Regions from separate parts of the Homo sapiens genome. Here all the other regions are reported to be linked to region 1. Evidence: microRNA targets listed by miRTarBase, many of them from high-throughput screens and not tested one by one. Region 1 holds a microRNA gene; each other region holds the end of a gene's coding sequence.

Region 1 (4,483 bases):
TATGCTATAAAAGTGAAAAGACTGGTAAAATTCATTTCAATAGTTATTTAATTTACCCCAATATGTCCAAAACATAGTTTTCAATGTATGTCATCCATCACTTAATGACAGGGATACGTTCTGAGAAATGCATTGTTAAGTAATTTCATGATTGTGCAAACATCAGAGAGTGTACTTACACAAACCTAGATGGGATAGCTTACCCTACACCTAGGGTATATGGTATAGCCTATTGCTACAAATCTATACAGCATGTTACTGTACTGAATACTATAGGCAGTTGTACCACAATGATAAATACTTGCGTATCTAAACATCTAAACATAGAAAAGGCACAGTAAAATTACCTTATTATAATTTTATGAAGCTACCGTTATACATGCAATCAGTTGTTGACCAACAGTTTGTAATGTGGCTCATGATGGTATATTCAATATGAAGTCATTAACAAGGTTTTTTTTAATAAGTTTTCAGATTTACTGTATATATTACACTCATAGCAAATCTCAATTGGGAGGAGTCAAATGTCAGATGCTCATTAGCCACACCTGCCTATTGGCTGCAGTAATGGACAGTGCAGCTCCAGCGTCTCCCTTTTGTTTTATCTTTCTACCATGATATGGTTTCATGATTTTTATCTCATCCACTGGCTTTCAGCATGTCCTGATGTCTTACTATCTCTCTCTTTCCCTCCCTCCCTCCTTCTTTTCTTCTCCTTCTCCCCTTTCCTGTCTCCCTTCTGGTTAAGGCCTCTGTCCTAAACATCCATTAATTCAGTAAATACTTTTAAGAACTATATTCAAGATGAGGTCAGAGAGATCAGTTATTTATAACATAAGTTGAATTACTGCTCTCAGAATCCATTATGAAGTCAAAGTCCTATGTGTAGGATTTCAGTGCATTCATAAAGGAAGGAAGGTTTAGAGGTTGCACAGGTCCATGAAGAAATCAGCCTATGCTTTTACCCAAAATGTTCCCTCTGCACACATATTCTTTGTTGTAAATAATTTCTATGTAACATACATGTTGCTAAAACACTTTGCAAAAGTAAATTTACCTTCTCATGTATAATTTGTAATATTTTTGTACATTATCCTATGAAATGGAACTGTTATGAAAAGCAAGTGGACATTGACACAAACAATACTAACTCTCTCTCACCTCTCTCTCTTTCCAAATAAATTATTCCCATTACTTAGTCTTTTAATCATATCTCTAACTTTTGAAGTCTTTTGTGATTTTGAGCTTCTCTCACCAAGTAACCTTTTTATATCACTTATTGTTAAAAACCCCATCAATAGCCCATGTTCTAACATGCCTTCTGCTAATTCACTCAATCGGCAAACATTTATTTAGTGTTTAGTATATTTCAAATATTGTGATAGGTTTTAAATAGACAGATGATAATTACATTAGTGAGATGCTTATTTTATTTGTCCTAGTGCAGATACTCATGAACTCATACTTTATGCCCCACTGAGTGTGGCTTAACTGAATTTTCAGTATATCTGATAACAAAAAAAAGAAAAAAAATTAAAAATGTATTTAAAAAGCCAGAGACTCCAGTGAGAACGTAATAATGTCTATCTCTGACATTTTGGGGTAATTAGTTTAGTTTCTAATATGCCCAAATCTCTTACCAGAGACCATTAAGTTCTGGTCTTTGGCCAGAGATTTGAGCATTGCAGAAACTATACTACATACTTAAATAAAAAATGTCAAACTATATATATAAATAAAAATTCCAAACTATATAAATAAAAATCCATGAATGATTATTTGTGTAATGATCATTACACTTAATCAGCCTAAGGTACAAAACAAGGTCACATATCTTTTACTATTTCACTTAAAATGTTGGAACTTTGATTTTCCTATTTTAAAACTCTTCTGCTTTACACACCAGCTTCTTCTCTTCTGTGATAATTTTACAAAACACTCACAATATTTTATTATATTGAATAGATAATTTCTAGTCATTCTTAGCTGGTTGTTGAATCAGAAATTACTTTCACAACTTCAGGCTTTGAGAAGGCCCAACTCTTCAAAGTGGTTACTTCAGAACAGTTTGTTGCACCAAGACAGAGATTCGTTGTTACACTTGACAGCCTAGATGTTCAAACTATTTAACTATTATAACAAAAATGTTACAATCTGTTATTCTAGGCAATGTAATTGAGACTGTTTCCTTCAACCTTGTAACTAGTATGATTCCAAATGATTTCATCCATTTAAAAAATACATTGGAACTTCTACTTCTGGGCAAGATTGAGCAATAAGGATGAATGTATGTTACAGCTTGAAAAAACCAAAACATGATACAATGGCTAACAAGGCACTGGTTGCTTGAAAACAAAAAAAAAAGTAATCTCTGAAAGATGAGAAACAAATAAATCCTAAAAATTCTTCCAATTCAGTGCGGTGAATTTCTAGGCAGCAGCACAGGGAGATAGCATTCAGTTGGAGACCTTTGAATTCCCGTGTTGTGGAGACAAAACTAAGAGTTGAGGAATAAGAAGGTGACTAGAGTTACCAGGGCAGAGAAAGGAATGCTACAAAGAGCGAGAACTCTAGAGATCAACAGAGGAGTCTCCTCAAATATTCAGCTGAGTGTTGACAAGCTCATGCATGCACAGTAACTGTATCAGGCCTGAGAAGGAACCACGTCAGACTCTATTATTAGAGGAAATAGTGACTAGTGCTTAAACAGGTGCTGGGACAAGTGCCTGTTCCAAAGAGAATCGAGAAATTCATGAGGCATTAGGTAGAGAACACAGAAGGTTCTTGCCTTAGAAGGATAATTTAACACTATGCTAAATGCTACACTGTTCTTGATTTATAAAAATTAGCAAGACATATAAGAAACACACTCTATCTAATTGACTTAAGTGAGTACCAAAATGAAACTTTTGACTGTTTTTTAAAAAGAATATTAAAAATCTGTCCCCTAAAGTACAAAATCCTTAATGTTTAGTATTTATTATTATTTTGCAAGCTGAAAAGCAAGAAAATGAAAACAATATTCAGGAGAACATTTAGACAAAACCAATTCACGACTGACACAGATGTTAAAGGATGAGGATATTATCATAGTTATAACTATGACAGGGTAGATACCAAAAAATATACAAATCAAATTCCAGAGGTAAAGACTAAAAATTTTGTAGTGAAAAATACAAGTTTTTTTTTTTTTTTCCCCAAGATGGCAGATTAGAGGCTTTTAGTGTGCCTCAGCTACTTGGAAATAGCAAAATAGTGCATAAAAATCTACTCTCTGAGCTTTAATTCAAGAAGACAAACAGGAAACCACTGCAATTGTGAAAGACATCCCAGATCCTGGGAAAAAGGTGGGCAAACTGTCGCAGTGATGGTGTCTGGCTGATAAAAATGAGTTAAGCCTCAGTTGGTGAGATTGGCAGAAAGCTTACCTCTGTGACTTGCTTTTGCACTGGGAATCTGAGCAACCCAGGACATGGGAGAGCACTTTATTTCTCCAAAGCCCTGGAGCTATCCTGGGGAAAAGGTTGGAGACACTGAGAGAGAGAGAGACACTGGGAAAAGTTGCAGGCATCTTCCAAGACCCGGGACCAAGAGCAGGATACCATTTTTAATTCAGATGCATAAAATGTCAGTCACTCTTTAGTAACCCATCAGTGTGGCCTCACAGGTATTTTAATCTCGAACCAGAGATTGGAGTGCTTGCTCTCGAGTGGGACGGGGGCCTCCACAGATAGAACTGTGGGAAGTTCCTCAGCAGTAGGTGCTGGATTTATGCCCTCCCCCATCACAAGCCTGGGGCTAGAGAAGAGCTGCTACTGCTGCAGTTTCTTCTAGCTGGTGACATGAAGCCAGGGCCAGCTTGGTGGCTTGTGTCACTGCTGGGTATCCCAGCCTTCACCCTTGAGATCATGGTATGTTAAGGCCCTATCCATTCCATGCCCAGGCAAATCTCCGGGCATTTGGAGCACCTGCTTATCTGGTATATCAGCAGACTCACCCACCCCTCCCTACCTGTGCATAGATCATCGTGCAGTGGGGCTTTCCCTGCTCTATCCCAGGCAGATCTCCAGGCATTTAGAGCACCCACTCACTTGAAACAGCAGCCTGAGCCACTCTACCCTTCTTGTACAGAGATTGTGATGAAGCAAAGCCTTCTACACTTCACACCTAGGTAGATCTTCAGGCATCTGGAGAACTCACTCTCCTGGGTTCGGTGTTTAGATGACACCCATACTCATGTAGAAAACTTGGAGCCAAGGAGGTTTCTTAGTGCCACACCTAGGCATATGTCTGGGCACTTTGTGGCTGGCACTGGATTCTCCCCGGTGTTGGCGCTTGTGCCTGCCATTGGGGGACCTGTAGGTGGGCCTGCCCAGAGAAGCCCCACCCAACTTGGCTCCCTCTCCTGAGGTTGAGCATGGAGCTCAGCCCACTGTGCAACCCGTGGATTAGCCCATTGCCTTAGGCAATGAGAGCTTCTCCT
Region 2 (4,000 bases), not on the chromosome of region 1:
GCGGGAGGGCCTTTGGGGGGCGGGGCGGCGGCGCCCGAGGACGACGATGAAGACGACGACGAGGAGCTGCTGGAAGTGCGCCTGGTCGAGACCCCGGGGCGGGAGCTGTGGAGGATGGTCCCGGCGGGACGGGCCGCTCGGGGACAAGCGGAGCGCGCCCAAGGGCCGTCGGGCGAGGGGGCGGCCGCCGCCGCCGCCGCCTCCCCGACACCGTCGGAGGACGAGGAGCCGGAGGAAGAGGAGGAGGAGGCGGCAGCGGCTGAGGAAGGTGAAGAGGAGACGGTGGCGTCGGGGGAGGAGTCGCTGGGCTTTCTGTCCAGGCTGCCCCCTGGCCCGGCCGGCCTGGACTGCAGCGCCCTGGATCGCGACCCGGACCTGCAGCCTCCCTCGGGCACGTCGCACTTCGAGTTCCCGGACTACTGCACCCCCGAGGTTACCGAGATGATCGCGGGGGACTGGCGCCCGTCTAGCATCGCAGACCTGGTTTTCACCTACTGAGCCCACCGTCAGCGGGGCGCGCACGCCCCCAAACCAGCTGTTTACATACAGGAATCAGGTATTGGGGCCCCTCGGAGGCCGAGGCTGGCACCCCATCTCCCGCGCAGCCTGCCCCCTCCTGGACGTGCCCATCCCCCCTCAGATCCAGACATGCCCCTCCCCCGCAGACACACCCCAAGGCAGCCCAACCCCCACCCCTTCCCCGACACCCAAGCCCCTCCCCACGTCGCCCCCTCCTGCACAGCCACCAGCAGCCAGCCCCCTCCGATACACCTCCCGTCCTCTCCTACAGACCTGCACCCCTCCCCCCTTTTGCACACGCCCCTCCTCGTGGCCGGAGGACCCGCCCCCTCCTTTGCTCCGGAATCTCTCCTCCCTCGCCCGGCCCGCCTTCTCTGGGTTAGGGGGGCGATGCGGCCGGGTGGCAACGCACGCGCCTCCTGCGCCCCTCCCTTCCCTGGGGGGAGGGGCGCACCCCTTTTATCCCCGGAGCGCTAGGGCCCGCCCCTCCGCTGGGGCCCACCCCCTTCGTGCGCATGCTTAATGCTTCTGGGGAGGAGGGGGCTGGTCCCAGCGGAGCCGCACTCTTCGCCCGCTCCGGGCAAAAGCGGGGGCGAGTGTAGAGCGATCCTGGGAAATCCTTTGATCCGGGAGCCCTAGGTTTCCTCTCCAGCCAACGGGGCGTCGCTGCCTTAATGGGAGGAGCACTCGGAAGGGTTGGTTTGGGCCTGAAACTCTCCCAAGTGGCATAGCCCCTTTTCCGGTATGGGGTCTCCTACACCCACGCGCACCACCTCTCCGGTCGCGTGGCTGCCTCTACAGCCTACCTATACGTCCCTTTTTCCCCCCAACTGGGAATTGAGAGGTAAGGTCTTTCTCTGGAAATCCAGCAGTAGAGGAAGGGACCACCCAAGAAAACTAAAAACCAAGGCACCTTACCAGTCTGTCTGGGGACAGGATCCCTGCTGCACCTTCCCCACCCCCTCCTGGGAAGTGCCCCCTCACCTCAGGGCACCCGCAACCTGGGCTCCTCCCTGAGCGCACCGGCCCTTCCTGTCACCCAGGTCCACCCTCAGTACTCAAGCTGCAGTATACAGCGGGAAAAACTGAGGCACTTTGGTGCTAGGGGTTTGGGACTGAGGCGTGGAGAGCAGATGTGATGGCAGGAAGACTCTCGCTTTTAAACATCTGGTTTGGGAGAGACCATCGACTTGGCCAGTGAGACTGAGAATGGATTCCGAGTAGTGATGGGCCGTTTGCACCTCGGTTTTTCCACGTGAGAAATGGGGAGAACGCTGCTGTTAGGAGGAAGTTGTGTCCAGTTCAGGGTGCCCTCGGGAGCCCTGTCCCTGTTGCTGTGGCCCCTCTCACGCCGCCATCTCTCTGCCCCGCCCCGCCCCTCCGGCCTCCCCACACCCCCCTTGCCCTCACTACCTGTATCTCACCGGCGTGTGTTCACCCTCCCGGGTGGCTCACACACTCTCATTCACACACACAAATCTCAGGAACAAACGGTCCCAGAGTCCTCCGGACCCCTGCCCAGGGTCTCTGCAGGTCTCTGCCCCACGCGTTCCCGTCGCTGACAAAGCCACCAGCTGCCTCCTTTAAGCTTGGTGCTCCGGCTCTGGGCCTTTCTTGCGCTCTATTTTTTTTTTTTTTTTTTTTAAGAAAAACAACAACAACAAAAAAAGACAATGAAAAAAAAAACGTCATGTGAGTGAAGAGATGTCACTGTCTGTGGTCTTGGAGAACTAGTCTCGTAGCTGAGGGGTGGGGTCCCTCTGTCTGGGGCACTGGCACCCACAGCAGGACTCCGCCAGTCTGATGCCAGGACTGAATAAAGTGTATTTGCCCCGACCTTGCCCTGTGGTTCTGCATGTCTGTGCTCTTCCTCAACCCTCCCTAAACAGTTTGCCAGATTCAAGTCCGTGTGATTTGGGCCCGAGCTGGGTGTCCCAGGGCAAGCCACCTTGCCTGTCTAGGCCTCTATGTCAGGACTCCCTGGCCTTCATGAAGAATAGCAAACTCATCCCTGTAGGGACCAGGCAGGTAACATAGACGAGTGACTCTGGGTGGACAGTGGTGTCATGACCCACTTCAAGGGGCCTACCTCCTGCCAGTTGTGACCCTGTGGGAATGCAGTCCACAGTGGCCAGGTGGCCAGATTTTTCAAGAAAAGCTGGATGGATGTTTCTGAGTCATCTTAATTTCAAAATGAGACTCATATTTTAAAATTTCTGTGGGCCAAATGAAACAAGTATGCAGGCAGGTCTGGTCCGAGGGGGCTGGCTTGGCCATGCCTTTCTGTGCCTTTAATGAGGACTAAGAAGCAAGATTGGGCCACACTGTCTGGACTCAAAGCCCAGCTCCACCACTGAGCACCCGTGTGACTCTTTCCATATGTATAACGTGGGGATAATAATAATAGCTGCTTCACAGGATGAAATGAAGTTTGAGGTGAGAAGCATTCACCATGGTGCCCATCGTGTTACTCCATTGTCAGAGGAGGAAACGGGGTCAGGCAGGAAAGCAACTTAAAGGAGGGCCTGCAAGCAGCCAGGGTCAGAGACAGGGCTTGGTTCTGCTTCCTGGTGAAGCATGGCTTCGGGGTGCTGCCTCTCCCTCCCTGTTTGAATCTGCAGATTGTGTTAGGCCCCCAGCTGAGGGCCTGGAGTGGTGGGATTGGTCCCAGTGCCTGGCGCACATTGGCCTGCAGAGTAGATTAACTGAATGACCAAAGAGCAACAGAAGTCTAGTGATTCTTGTCTTTGAGGTTCTGACTGGTGTTTTACAACTGAGTCCAAGGCTTTTCCCTCCTTTGTCCCTCTGACACCCCTCCCCCTAATTCTCATCTGTCAGATCCAGTGTATTCCTAAGCTGGGACAAAGCCTCTGTTTTCCCAGTAGGAGCCAGGGCTGAGTGTGGAAATTACAGTGACTGCTTCTTCTCAGCTTCTCTGGTTGAAAGCAAGCTGGCGAAGTAAGAGGAGGTAGAGTTGAGAAGGTGTGGAAGATAGGGACAGCTGCCCCCAGAACTCCCTTCAAGGGAGGACTTCCCCAGCTATGGGAAGTGCCATCAGGGTGGCCGCAGCTGCAGAGAGCCACTTCACCTGAGACCACGCCCTTCCTGGGGCAGCCTGTATCTGGTGTCTGAGTGAGGCATGGTATAAACACCTGGTCATTTCAATCCAACATGGGACGGACACTGACAGACAGTACTCCCAGCAGGCCCAGGCCAGCCAGGGCTTCGTCAGGCCTGCAGCACAATTTGACTTCCTATGCCCAGGCCTGCTTCCTCTTCTTCCTCTTCTTTTCACAGGTGCTTATTCCTAATAAACATCTTGCAACCCAAACTCAGTCTCATTGTCTGTTTCTAGAGAAACCCAGTCTACAACAGAGGGTTCAAGAGACTGGACAAAGGGAATTGGGTCAGTGGCCCAGCAACTGCAGCTAGGCCGGTCGGATGTATCCTAATGTCAAGAGTCTGTTCACCGATGCCATCA
Region 3 (4,000 bases), not on the chromosome of region 1:
ACCTTGCAAGAAACAAAATGTGCTGTGAAGCAGGAAAGTACATAGCATCCTGTACTTTCATACCGCTCAATGCATCTCTGCAAGCTTATCCCAAGTGCTGCCTCATCTGATCTCACCACAGGAATCACAGCAACATTTCAGATAAGGAAAAGGAGGTCAAGGGCTTGGGTCAAAGTCACCACAGCAGTTAGTGGGGGTCAAAGATTGCAATGAGCATTTCTCTTCTTCCTGCCCCAGATGATTGGACTTAACAAGGCCAAGGAAAGCTTAAGTGGGTCATCATCCCTGGCTTTCCTTAAACATCAGCAGGGTGGGAATGGCTAACAGGAGGAGAAACACAGAGTGTGAACTTGTATCACCCCCCACCTGCCTACCCAGAGACTGTCTATGTGAGTGAGATGAACACAAACCCCAGTACAGTGAAACACTTTTATGAAGGCTGCCTGAGAGGTAATCTACTGACTTGGAGAGTATGTTCAAGGGATCATATAGGAAAGTCATGGGCTCTTCCCCACGCAACCATCTCCAGAGACCTAAATAAAAAGCAAATTTAATACGAATAAGTGGACAGATGAGCTGCCCAGTAGGCAGGCACTGAGAGACTGATCAGTGGGATACTCAAGCAGAGTGAGACAGAGCGGAACCTTCCAAGTGGTATTAGTGTTGACCTGGATTACATCCCATAATGAGTTCTGGATCCAGAATTACCTGAGGGAAGGGGTCTGTTAGCAGTGCCATAAAGGGTCAGTGGCTCTGATCTCCCAGGCGTCAGGGTCCCTTGCAGAGATGACTGAGAACCAAGTGCACAAAGCACAGATGAAGCTGCTACAGGCTGGAACCCCAGGGGCCACTGGAATGTCCATTTCCTGCAGCCTGCCTATACTGAGGTTTAATCTAGATAACGTTTGACAAAAGGGTCAGGGTAAGATTAGGAGATGATAATTAACCTCTAGGAGTCTACCTCATTGTACAGCTGCTCCCCCACTGGGTACTCCCATTCTTCTAAGACCAAGGGCTGCCAGTGGGACCCACACTGCTCTGCATCAAGCTTCCAGACCACTGCCCACCCTCCCTTCCTCAAAAGGCTCTCACCTGGGAGATGCTATCCTGTCATGCCTGCTTTCCCCTCTGGCAGGTGCCACTGGCCTTGTGGCCACTCCTCTTGTTCACCAAGGATGCTGACTCCTAGGTCACACCATTCTCCTCAACATCTGTCGGTTTCTTGCTTCAGCACCCATGTGGAGGCTCACCCTGCCCTCCAGCCTCGCCAACCCTAGATTTCACTTCTTAAGGCTCCTCCCTGGCTCTGGCCAGCAACCCCAGGTCATACCCTCTATTTTGCCTTTACCTGAGATTGCTCCACCTCTCAATTTCCAAAGCACTCCTGTCTGGCTCAAATATACCTCCCTGCCCAACCCCTCACCATGCTGGAGTTTCTATCTTGTCAAGACCTCTAATTTCCTAATCCCTCCCTAGTCACCTCCTGTTTTCAATTCCAATTTCTTGGTCAGATTAAACCTTAGACTGCACATTTCATCACTACAATTTCTCCTGTGTATGTCTTCTGAACTGACCCATCTTTCTCTCAACTCCTTTTACTTCCCTGGCAAAACCCCAACACTGCAGTAAGTGTACCCATCCCAGCTCCTGAATCCTGATGAGGGGAAGACAGGTGTGTGCAGAGCCCCACTCAACACACACACACCTGAGTGCCCAGCATCCTACTCTAAACTGACCATCTCAGAGCTCAGCCTTGCCCTGCCCTTCTGCTGTTGCCTTAATCAACCTGTTTTCCAACACCTAGGAAAACATCTACTTCATACCTTCTGAGAACACACTCCACCCACAACTAGCTGATAGTCTCACTTCATTTCACAAAGAAGAGATTCAAACTCCTTCATCATTTCCCCATTAATTTAGTCATCCTAATCTTCTATACTTGCCCCTTTCTGTTTTATTGAGCCATATGAGGCTGCAGGACTGTGTCTCTTCCTACAAAGGTCCCATCCCTCCTTCTTTCTCATGGACTCTGCTCCTTCAGGGGTCCTCCTCTTTGTGCCCCTCCCATCTCTCTCATCACACCATCTTGACTGTTGCCATCAATATTGGCATGCTCTACCTCCCATCTTAAACATGCCTTGACTCCATAGCTCTCTATTATTAACCTGAGCCCCTTGAAGGCCAACTTCTCACACGTTCTACTCCCCAACTTTCCATTCACTCAACCAGTACAGCCTGCCTTCCATACCGCCCTTCCTGAAACTGCTGCCATCATAGTCATCAAACACTTCATGTTACTGAATTCAATGGACAGTTTTGCCTCTGTTTTAGTGAAACCCTCACAAGCACTCTGCATAGTCCGCTTTCTGTCTTCTTTAACGTGCCTGGTTCCCTCTGCCCAAACTTTTAGGATTGGGCCTCCTCAGGGCCTTGTCCTGAGCCCTCTTCTTTTTCTCTCTCCATGGATTACCTCCTCCAGTCTATGTTTTTATACCACCTTTATGTAGATGAAGTGAAGGCAGGGTGGTGCTAGACTGGGGTGGGTCAATTCCCTTCTGATAGTCTCGGAGTCTCAGGCATCCCAAAGATGAAAGCTCTAGAGGAGAGACACCAGTCCTCACAGGACTCATGTCCATGCTCAGTCCAAGGAGACCTAGCCACTTCCTTACCCTTCCTGCTCAGTTTCAGAAGAAAAGGATTGGGGATTGGTTGGGCTGCTCTCCCACCTTTTAAGAGCCAACTGCTTTGGTCACCACTCAAGACAAGAGCAAGTCTATTTTCAGAAAGCACAGGGGGTGCTCTGTTTCTCTATCCTCCCTAACAAATAGGCTGGGCTAGACCCTGGAGGGCAACCATGGAGGAGTGTGGGAAGGATTCACCCTTGCTTCAGAAGCTCCTTGCAATCAGGGACCAGGGTAGTGTGACAAATGCCACTTCAAGGTTAAACTGGACATGACCAGGGGAAGGTGTCAGGCTGTGTGTTGTTACAGATTGTATATTTGCATGCCTGGGGGTTACCAGGCTGTACGCATATAAACAGGGAGGAGGCAGGCTCTGAGAACCTGCCAGGGTGCCTGGGATAAGCTGTGACTTTTTGCCCCTGATGCCATAAGTTGGAGGGTCCTCTGCTCAAAACATATGGTACACACTTCTCCTTCTTTTCATCTGGTATCATGTATCATCTCTCAGATCCAATAAGAAAACATTCCCACGTCCTTCCCTCCCTCCCTAGTACCAAGGTCCTCATCTCAGTTTTCATGGGTCCATGGAGGGCTGCCTCTAGTGATGAGCTGGAATCTTAAGGCCTGAAATAGAGCCAGACTGCAGCAGTCCCAAGTCCTGGAGAGCTTCAAGTAACTGCTCCCGCGCAGAGCCAATAAAGGAATTCTCCAGGAAGGTAGGCAGGCCTCCTACACCATCCCGCAGGGTATACAGGGGCACTCGCACCAGGCCCAGCACCTGTAAAAGGAAGGAGACAGGAGACACTAGGGCCCCAGGTGGCTCATTCCCTTAACTCCATCCTTTCTCCAGCAGATCAGGCCTCACCCCTTAATACTCCAGCAGAACCAGGCCCAAGGCTCACACCTCACTAAAGCCTAGTGGCCCAACCTTCTGCAGGAAAATGACCCAAAACATATTATCTAGCTCTATCAATTAATCTTTCCCACATCTGCTTCTAAACCTCTAGTGGCTACTGCCTCAAAGATGTATTCATACCCTTTCACCAGTGGTTGTCAAAATGTGGTCCTCAGATTATTTGCATCAGCATTATTTGGGAACTTTTGAAAACTACAAATTCTCAGGTTTCCTCTCCCCCCGCCCCACCACCAATGCAGGAATGCTGAGAGAAATCGCTATTTTAATAAGACGCCCCGATGATTCTGCTACCTGCCAAATTTTGAGAACCACCTTCATACATAATCTATCTACTAGCCCTGCCTGAAATATCAGGGCCACATCTCCTACACAAGAAAAGCAAACCCCAAGAATAAAACCTAGG
Region 4 (4,000 bases), not on the chromosome of region 1:
GTAGAAATCACCCACAGCAGTCATGTCTTTGATGTTGTCTAACTGTTCTCCCTGTTCTGAATTCAGTCAGGACATAAAGGTTTTTAAAGTCTTATTTCCTTATAAAGTGGTTTCCTGGGCCAACCATGCCCGAGTCATAGTGAACCTAACAAGACACCCTTTTCAGTTTAGAGTTCCTGAGAAGGTAATAATAGGTTATATTTGCCTTCTTCAACGTGTCTGACTACTCCCTTGTCTTCCCACTCCCCTCTGCCCTGCTTCACTTCTGCACAGGCTCCCACTGCCCTGGCTCCTGTACACCGTCATTCACAGATTCCAGCCAGTGGCTGTCAGCAGCAATGGCCTTTTCTGTGCCATCGTCCTTCTCTTCATCATGCTGCTCTTCGTCATCCTCTCTATCGCCCTCTGCAAGTGGCGAATGAACAAAATCCTGGGCTTCATCATGTTTGGCCTCTACTTTGTGTTCCTGGTGGTGAGCGTTCTCCTAGAAGACAGAATTCTTACATGCCCCGTCTCCATCTAGCAGGAAAAGCCATATCTTGCACCAGCAGCATGAATGGTCCCTCCACACTCTGGGCTCTGGGCTCCTTGACCTCTTGAGAAGAGGCAGCTGGCACACAGCCCTGGGTGCCAAGTGTCCCTCCTTGGTGAATTTGAGGAGAGATGGATTCACACTGGGCCCATTCACTTCACAGGCTGCTTCCACCCTGCCTACTGAAATGACTTCATGTAAAAGACAAAGAGAACCGTCAATACAGGGCTTCTCCCTATTCACCACTGACAAGTACACCTCGCTGGTCGGAGGTACAGTCGATGCAAACAAGGACACAGGCTATATATATCTATAAATACACATATTATAAATATACGCACATGAACACACAAATCCTGCCTGTTCCTGTACTATACCTCTCCTTGCATACCTATAGATTAGTACATACCTGTAAATAAAGACAAAGAAAAATTATATATATATATATAAAATCAGATATATATAAAAGTACAAATGCATCTTTTCAGGGATAGCTCTAGTATATTTATAGTACTTATTTGAAGAGGGGCATCAACTTGCAGTCTGGGCTTTACCTCTTAAGTACAAGAGGTGAACTAATGGAACCAACAAGACAAAGGTAGCATTGCTGTGACCTTCAGCCTACCTTGGACTTGCTGTGATCCTGCCTAGTAAGGTAGATGGTTTAGGGAAATAGCTTGCAGGGAGGAGGGCTTAGTGGAGAAGGTCTGTAGGGGCCCTGAGTTGAGCCTTCCAAAACATTCCTACAAGCCAAACAGAGAGACTATCTGCCCACCTCCACCAGAGTACCCTGACCAAGAAACTCAGGGTACTTAGGACAGAAAGAGGTAAAAACCCAGGCTGGGTGGCTTGGTTTGGGGAAGTGGGGAGGTAACCAGGGTTGGGTTGTTTTGTTTTGTTCTTATATTGTCCCAGCATGCAAGTAGAAAATATGACTACAAACCAAATTAGTGCTTTTTCTAGGACAGCAAGACTATATAAACTGAACCTGTATTTTTCCAGCGCATGTCCCATTATCATCAAAAGAAGAGGGGTAAGTTTAGCTGTGATTGTCATGTAGATATATTTTGATGCTAAGGGCTGCCAAGAGAGCCTAGATGTGCAATAAGAAGTCATCCAGTAAAGGTGCTTAGTGGGCCTTGCCACCTAATGGGATGTAAGGGCATAGTTCTTTAAAACGTTTTCCAGTGTAGTCATAAAGGGCTTTAGTGTCTGAAGAAATCATTATTCCCAATAGCACTAACTTAACTCTGATCAGCACTGCTTGGGTTGAGGCAACTTAGCGATGCTTGGAAAGGCATTTGCACACTCAGTGCACCCCAGGAAGGTTTCTGAGTGCCAGGTCGAGTGGTACCAGGACCAGGCTTTGGTTAAAGTTCTTGTAACATCTATGTCTCTTCTTCCATCAAGACCTTATCTGGGATTCTGTCTAAGTTTTAGAGTACACGGTATTTGACAGCTTCCTTATACTGGTTTCAAGCTATTCACTCCAACAATTTGATTTCTTGATTTTGCTCAACATTACATTGAATGCATGAAATTAAAATATTCCACGCCCCCAAGTTCTGTATGACACCTTGTGTGTTTTCTCAGATCTATGTCAGTCGAAAATAAAGCCAGCAAGGGGGAAAAAATAGGCAAACTGAATCAATGGAAAACTATGTAGAGCACTTTTCTTTTCTCCAAGTCATGCTTTCCTTAAAATCAGTTGAAAAATTGAATCAAGGATGGTTCATTATTCTGTACCCATCCTACGTCTAAGTTGGTACATATGGCATATGGGAAATTTCACCATATGTGTTCCTATCTCCAATCTATTCTGTCATTGACGCCTGCTATGATTTTGTTGTGAGCACATACCTCTTAACATAAGAGGACAGGATGCAGAACTCACAGCAGAATAAGAGGAAAGGTAACCTGACAGCCCCAGATCAAGCTCAGTATTCCTTCCAGAAAACCTCAGCTCACCCCACAGAGCATGGCAATAACAGGAAATGCCCATCATTCCTCTTCACCCAGAAGTAAAAAGCACTTCAAACCCGAGGCCCCCTGGGAAAACAAGAAATCAAGATGGCTGCCAGTCGGAGGCTGGCTTTCAAGTCTCTCCAACTCGGCAGATTGGGGTCTTCAGATGTGGGACAATGCCTTCCAAGACATTGAAACACCATCCAATAGAGGCGCTGAGTGGAACCTGCCACCTAATGGGAATGAATCTCATTCATCAAGGTCAGGACTTTGTACTGGGGCAAGAATTTGTCCTGCTTCCTTAGAGAGTGAAAGAATGAGGAAGTGAACTTTACGTTTAAAAACTCCAGTTGTTTTCCCTGTGTATTTCTTGAAGGGCAACCAAGTTGGTTATTGTGTGAATTTTATATTATTGACTGGTGCGTTGTTTGAAATAAGGTTTAAATAGGTGACTGACTCAACTGCAAACAGACCATGTAAAACAGAAGTTGAAGGAGACCTGATGCCGCCCTCTTCTTATTCCTGATCCTCCCTCTGCCTCCTCACTCCCTCCCATTTATTCCCAGCTTACAGTGAAGGCTGATCAAAGCAGCTATGGTGCCCTTTGCTTGTCTCGGAGCTCCACTTCACAGGAAGTGTTGTGGTCTTTCATGTGAAGTTGCATTTGAGAAGACAAAATTTCCAAGCCCCGTTCCCACATCAGTCATGTGCACTGAGCCTGACCTACAACAGCACTGCTCCCTCACTGGATGGGACACAAGTGATTCCACAGCCTGCCCTTGCTTTCCCTTCATTTCTGTGTCTGTAAGTGGTTATGTGTTGAGCCAGGGTAAATTCAGAGAGATGTGTACAGAGTTCAACAATGGGTCTTTAAACCATTCAAATCATTGGCATAATTATAAGAACTTTCCACACCGTGGTTTCCAAAACAGGTCATCTCTAACTCGTTTCCTGCATGCCTGTGTATATACATATATAAATATATACATATATATATATATACATATATATATATATATATATATCTTTATACCAGATCTATATGTACACATATAATATGACTTACATCATCACCCTCTGACCCTATCACATTCAGGATTCTAAAGCAGGGAGCATCAAGTTTGCCAAAGTCAAGGAAAAGGAAAGTCATGCACACAAACCAAAGGGAACATTTCTTCCTGATTTCATAAGGTTGTTTGTTCCATGCACATATATTTACAAATATACACATATGTACCCATATTTTCCCACCCTAAGAATATCAATTTATAGCCTTAAGGAAATCGGTCAGCCATATCCCTAATGCTGATATAGAGGCAAAGAATACACAACAGAAAATACAAAGCAAAAATTTAGACTGCAGATACTCTCTTTGCTTCTCTGGAGCAGGGTATAAAAGATATCAACAATTCAAGAGCCAACATTGTACTAATCAATCTAAAATAAATGAGTTGCACGCAAATGATTTCATTTATTCACAGCAAACCGAGCAGGTCTTGCTTG
Region 5 (4,000 bases), not on the chromosome of region 1:
TCTTGGTGCCTGGACCATGCCCACAGCTGCTGGGTGCCTGCACACCCGCTTTCTTTCAGGACCAAGTGGAAGCGGCAGACAGCGGTGGGCCTGGAGTTGCTGGCCGAGGCAGGGAACTACTCGGCGCTGCAGAGGATGTTTCCATCGCCTTATTTCTATCACCCAAGCCTGCTGGGCAGCATGGACAGCACTACGGCGGCGGCGGCTGCCGCTGCCATGTACAGCAGCATGTACCGGACTCCTCCAGCACCCCATCCCCAGCTGCAGCGGCCCCTGGTGCCCCGTGTGCTCATCCACGGCCTAGGGCCTGGGGGACAGCCAGCCCTTAATCCATTGTCCAGCCCCATCCCAGGCACCCCACACCCCCGGTGAAAACATTGCAGCGAAGGCACTGCAATCCCTTCCCCATATCCCTGCCCAACCCGGACTGCTGCCCGTCCTCTCCCTGCTCCAGGCCACTAGGCCTCCCTTGCAGCCAACTCTGGAAGGCAGAGGAGTAAGAGAGGAAGATGCTTACCAGTGGGCAGGGGACCCCCAAAGAGGAGCCAGCCCTCTGCTCTCCATCTCCCCACCCCTAGAAACAGGGCTGGAAATCTCCCCCACAGCAGTGTGACTGGTGAAAATGCTGACCCCACACAGAGTGCAACCAGTAAGTGAAAACATCAACAAAAACAAAACCTCAAATTCTTTTTCAAAAATGACTTTAGGGACAAGCAGGAGGGAGGGAGGGGGGAGGGCTAAGGAGGGAAGAAAGAAGGGCACGGAGCGGAAACAGCACAGGCAGAGTGAACTATATATGGACAGCCTCAAGTGCTGAGGCAAAGGGCGTTGCCGAGGACATTCCGTCTGCCCCAGAGAAAAGAGGAGGGTAACTGAGAACTTTGCACTGATTTCTCATGACCTTTTTTCTTTTGGAAAAGTGGCATGCTCCATAATATGAAAAAAATGTACATTTGAAAGACTGAGTGATAAGTGATATATCATATTTATTATATGTTGTCCAAAAAGAGTCACTTATATACGTTAGTAAAAACATGATTTTTCTTTTCATGTCTTTTCGATTCAGTAAAATAAATGCTTAGACAAAAATATAGATTTTTTTGTGATTGAAAATTACAAAAATAAAGTTTATCTTTTTTTAACAAGTGATGAAATCCAAGGGAGCTGATTTTACTAAAGCAGAATGTACTATGATGAAGTGCTGACTTGGTTTAGAACAACAAATTTCTTCTGAAATATTAGGAATTTACAAAATCCGTAAAGAGGTTGGGTTGGCTTGTATAAAAGCAGCTCCATTTTTCGTGCTGGCCTCTTCCGAACCATTATTTGATATGTATGAGTTCCTTTCTTTTTAAATGGATGGTTTCAAAGCAACCCAGGAGGCTGTGGGAGAAAATCTGTACTTGCAGGCTGCGGGTGCTGGCTAAGTCGGCGGCCAACTTTGCTGCCGTCCTGACCTGCATAGAGGCCCCAGCTTCACCGGTGTGGTGATCCCTCTGTCCTCCCCTCCTCCTTCTTCTAGGGGTCTTCCTGGGGCAGCGAGGGTCCGAAGCGCTGGGCAGCGATGACAACGCCGGCAGGGGCTGGGCGGCAGGCGGACGCTCCTCGAGCCTCGCAGCTGTTCTGCTGCCCGCGGCTGAGCGCCGGCGAGGTCGGACAGCCTGTGAGCGGGAGGCTGTGGGACGAGCAATTAGGACGCCCCCGGGGGACTTGGAGAGGGCCAGCTAACAAACCCTTGTGGCGGCTTTGATCGTTGCCTTCTCAGTCCCTGGCGGCGGGCGTCCAGCCCCCAGCCCCATGCGGAGCCGCTTGTCCTAGTGAGTTCGTTGTGCTGCGATGCCTGGAGTTCCTTTGCAACGGTGAACTCAGGCTGAGACTGGCTGCCAAGCCTTTTATCTGCACCCCTGGGACAGCTGGGACTGCAAAATAGGAGACCCTGCCCAGAGTGTGGAGGAGGCCCGCTGCCTGCTTTAGGAGTGTGTGTGAGTGTGTGTATGTAAGTAAATGTTTGTAGCACCCTGGCCTAAGTCAGTCATAAGCACCACCCCTCACCCCCCGCCAGGCTGGCTCCCCACCAGGCTCAGTGCTCAGGACTGTATGAAGGAGCCACTTAGTGGAGCATACAGTTCCCAGGTTGCTCCTACTCCTCTCCAGCCCCCGGGTCACTTCCTGAGTAGCCAGAGTCAGACCTCCTATCTGGGCATCCTCACATTTCTATCCTCACTCCTGCCCTAGTACAGTGACAAAGGGGTAATACAAGCAGCTAAAATACATCTGGACCTGGCCTCCAACTTTCTCTGATGGTTGAACCTTAGTGTAGTTAAAAATGTTTTTAAAAATGTGAAGTGATGTGGGAATGTATATTTAGGAGGGGTGGGAAAGAAGGAGGGAAGAAAAGTGAAATCCAGGTGGAAATTGCCTGGGGGCACCTTGATCAGACCTTGGCTAATTAGGAAGTGGTTTGCAGATTTCTCTCCAGCTCATCAGTTTGCTTTAAACTTGGTCTTGGTCTTGTTTGATTCTAACAAAAGGGTCTGGACTGGCCCTTCTCATTTTCTGCCTGCTTAGCTGAGACAAACTCAGCTAGCTGGGCTTGGCTGGAAATTGGGCGCCGCTATGTCCAGTTAGGATGTCCAATACCTAGGCACTTAGCAGACCCTCCTTGTTTCATCTTGCAGTTGGGTTTTTTGATCAAGTTTAAACAGTTTAAAAGTGGTCTGCCTAGGCCTAAAAAGGCACTCTCCAAGGTTTGAGGGTGCTATAGCTTCTGTTTGCACTGAAACTGGGGCTGGTCAACTCTAGGCACAAGGAGGGATTTGAGAGGCCACAGAGTTTATGCATACAAAGAATCTTTACAAAGAATTAACTCAGATCCAGGTATGAAAAACACACAAAACTACAAATCCAAATAAGGCCAGAGCACCCATTTGCTGCCAGCAGTCCCCAGCCACCTGCAGGATGGTGGGCCGGGAAGTCTGCCCACTGCCGCTTTACACTCAAGGCTGAACTTGGACTCCTGAGGTGGACAATGCAGGGGGAAGCACTGTGCCTACAGAGACCAAGATCTCTTAATCAACCTCATATTGCTCTGCTGCTAGCAATTACTCAGGATCCATTAGGGTCCTCCCCAAATCCAAGTTTCTTCAAAGTCATGTTTTCTTTCACCCCCTAAATCATGCAGCTGAATGTGTCAATGTCCTTTCTAAATTTGTTTGGTTACCTGCTGTTGCATACAAGTTGGCAGATTGGATGTTGTGGGGTGGGGGATATTGTCCCAGGAAGAAAGTTGGGTGGGTGCCTGGTTCCTTCCTTCCTTCCTTCCTTCCTTCCTTCCTTCCTTCCTTCCTTCCTTCCTCCCTCCCTCCCTCCCTCCCTCCCTTCTCTCCTTCCTTTCTTTTTTTCTTTTATTTTCCTTTCTCTCTTTCTTTCTTTCTTTCTTTCTTTCTTCCTTTCCTTTTCTTTCTTTTCTTTCCTTCTTTTTCTGCAGCAGTACTGCAAAGGGCACCTCAGCAGGTGCCCTAGTATTCAAAAGTCACCTGCTTAAAAGTCAAATGCAAACTCAATTTTTTTCTTCACAAAGGGTCCTTCTTTCCTTCTGTGCCTGCTCAACTAAATTAGGAGGTTGGCTAGGAGGTGAAGAGTGCAACTCCAGGTTTTCTGAGAAGCAAGGAACAAGGTAACAGGCAGAGGCCTATTCTCATGGGAAATCTGGAGTTACAGAGAAGCAGAGGACAGCTGTCCCTGGGAACTGTACTCTTTTTCTTTTTTCCCACCTTCAGCTGGTGTCTGAAGGGCACTCCGTGGCTGGACTCCATTTAGATTGCTCCTTTGATTAAGTCGGAGGCTAGAAAAACAGAGATTTTCAGTGGCAATCTTTGCTTCCTACAGAAACACAGTAATACAAAGTTATTTCAGAGAGACGTTTAAAGACCTACAAAGGCCTCTTAGATTTGCCAACACCAAGATCAGCTCAGGGACCCCAGCAAACCTACACAAATCT

The links. The annotated mature microRNA hsa-miR-4490 reads UCUGGUAAGAGAUUUGGGCAUA and lies in region 1 at 1,623-1,644, opposite strand. An mRNA with a match to its seed (bases 2 to 7 or 8) in the 3' UTR can be bound and repressed. Matches are read on the target gene's strand: a 7mer-m8 pairs with bases 2 to 8, a 7mer-A1 pairs with bases 2 to 7 and ends in A, and an 8mer does both.
Region 2: miRTarBase lists SOX12 as a target of hsa-miR-4490. Seed matches in the 3' UTR shown: 7mer-m8 at 1,434-1,440.
Region 3: the mRNA of NUDT16 is a reported target of hsa-miR-4490. Seed matches in the 3' UTR shown: 7mer-A1 at 3,165-3,171.
Region 4: miRTarBase lists SLC24A2 as a target of hsa-miR-4490. Seed matches in the 3' UTR shown: 7mer-A1 at 3,528-3,534.
Region 5: miRTarBase lists BARHL2 as a target of hsa-miR-4490. Seed matches in the 3' UTR shown: 7mer-m8 at 514-520.

What each region holds. Positions count from the first base shown.
Region 1 is chr11:90,554,163-90,558,645 of GRCh38, forward strand. It overlaps MIR4490 (microRNA 4490), which reads right to left and starts at 1,695; the gene lies at 1,612-1,695. All of the region lies in intron 2 of DISC1FP1 (DISC1 fusion partner 1), which reads left to right.
Region 2 is chr20:326,375-330,374 of GRCh38, forward strand. It overlaps SOX12 (SRY-box transcription factor 12), which reads left to right. Exons shown (of 1, transcript NM_006943.4): 1 at 1-3,850. The coding sequence ends at 498. Among named protein-coding and RNA genes, the nearest start is that of SOX12, 2.8 kb to the left of the region's middle. RefSeq lists silencers at 1-307, 668-737, 778-1,067.
Region 3 is chr3:131,382,621-131,386,620 of GRCh38, reverse strand. NUDT16 (nudix hydrolase 16) reads right to left here. Exons shown (of 3, transcript NM_152395.3): 3 at 1-3,459. The coding sequence ends at 3,280. Among named protein-coding and RNA genes, the nearest start is that of NUDT16, 2.8 kb to the right of the region's middle. RefSeq lists an enhancer at 3,839-4,000.
Region 4 is chr9:19,512,676-19,516,675 of GRCh38, reverse strand. It overlaps SLC24A2 (solute carrier family 24 member 2), which reads left to right. Exons shown (of 11, transcript NM_020344.4): 11 at 274-4,000. The coding sequence ends at 523. The region is part of intron 4 of LOC105375988 (a long non-coding RNA gene); the gene reads right to left. Among named protein-coding and RNA genes, the nearest start is that of MAP1LC3BP1, 51 kb to the right of the region's middle.
Region 5 is chr1:90,708,684-90,712,683 of GRCh38, reverse strand. It overlaps BARHL2 (BarH like homeobox 2), which reads left to right. Exons shown (of 3, transcript NM_020063.2): 3 at 60-1,145. The coding sequence ends at 372. Among named protein-coding and RNA genes, the nearest start is that of BARHL2, 6.6 kb to the left of the region's middle. RefSeq lists an enhancer at 1,132-1,700.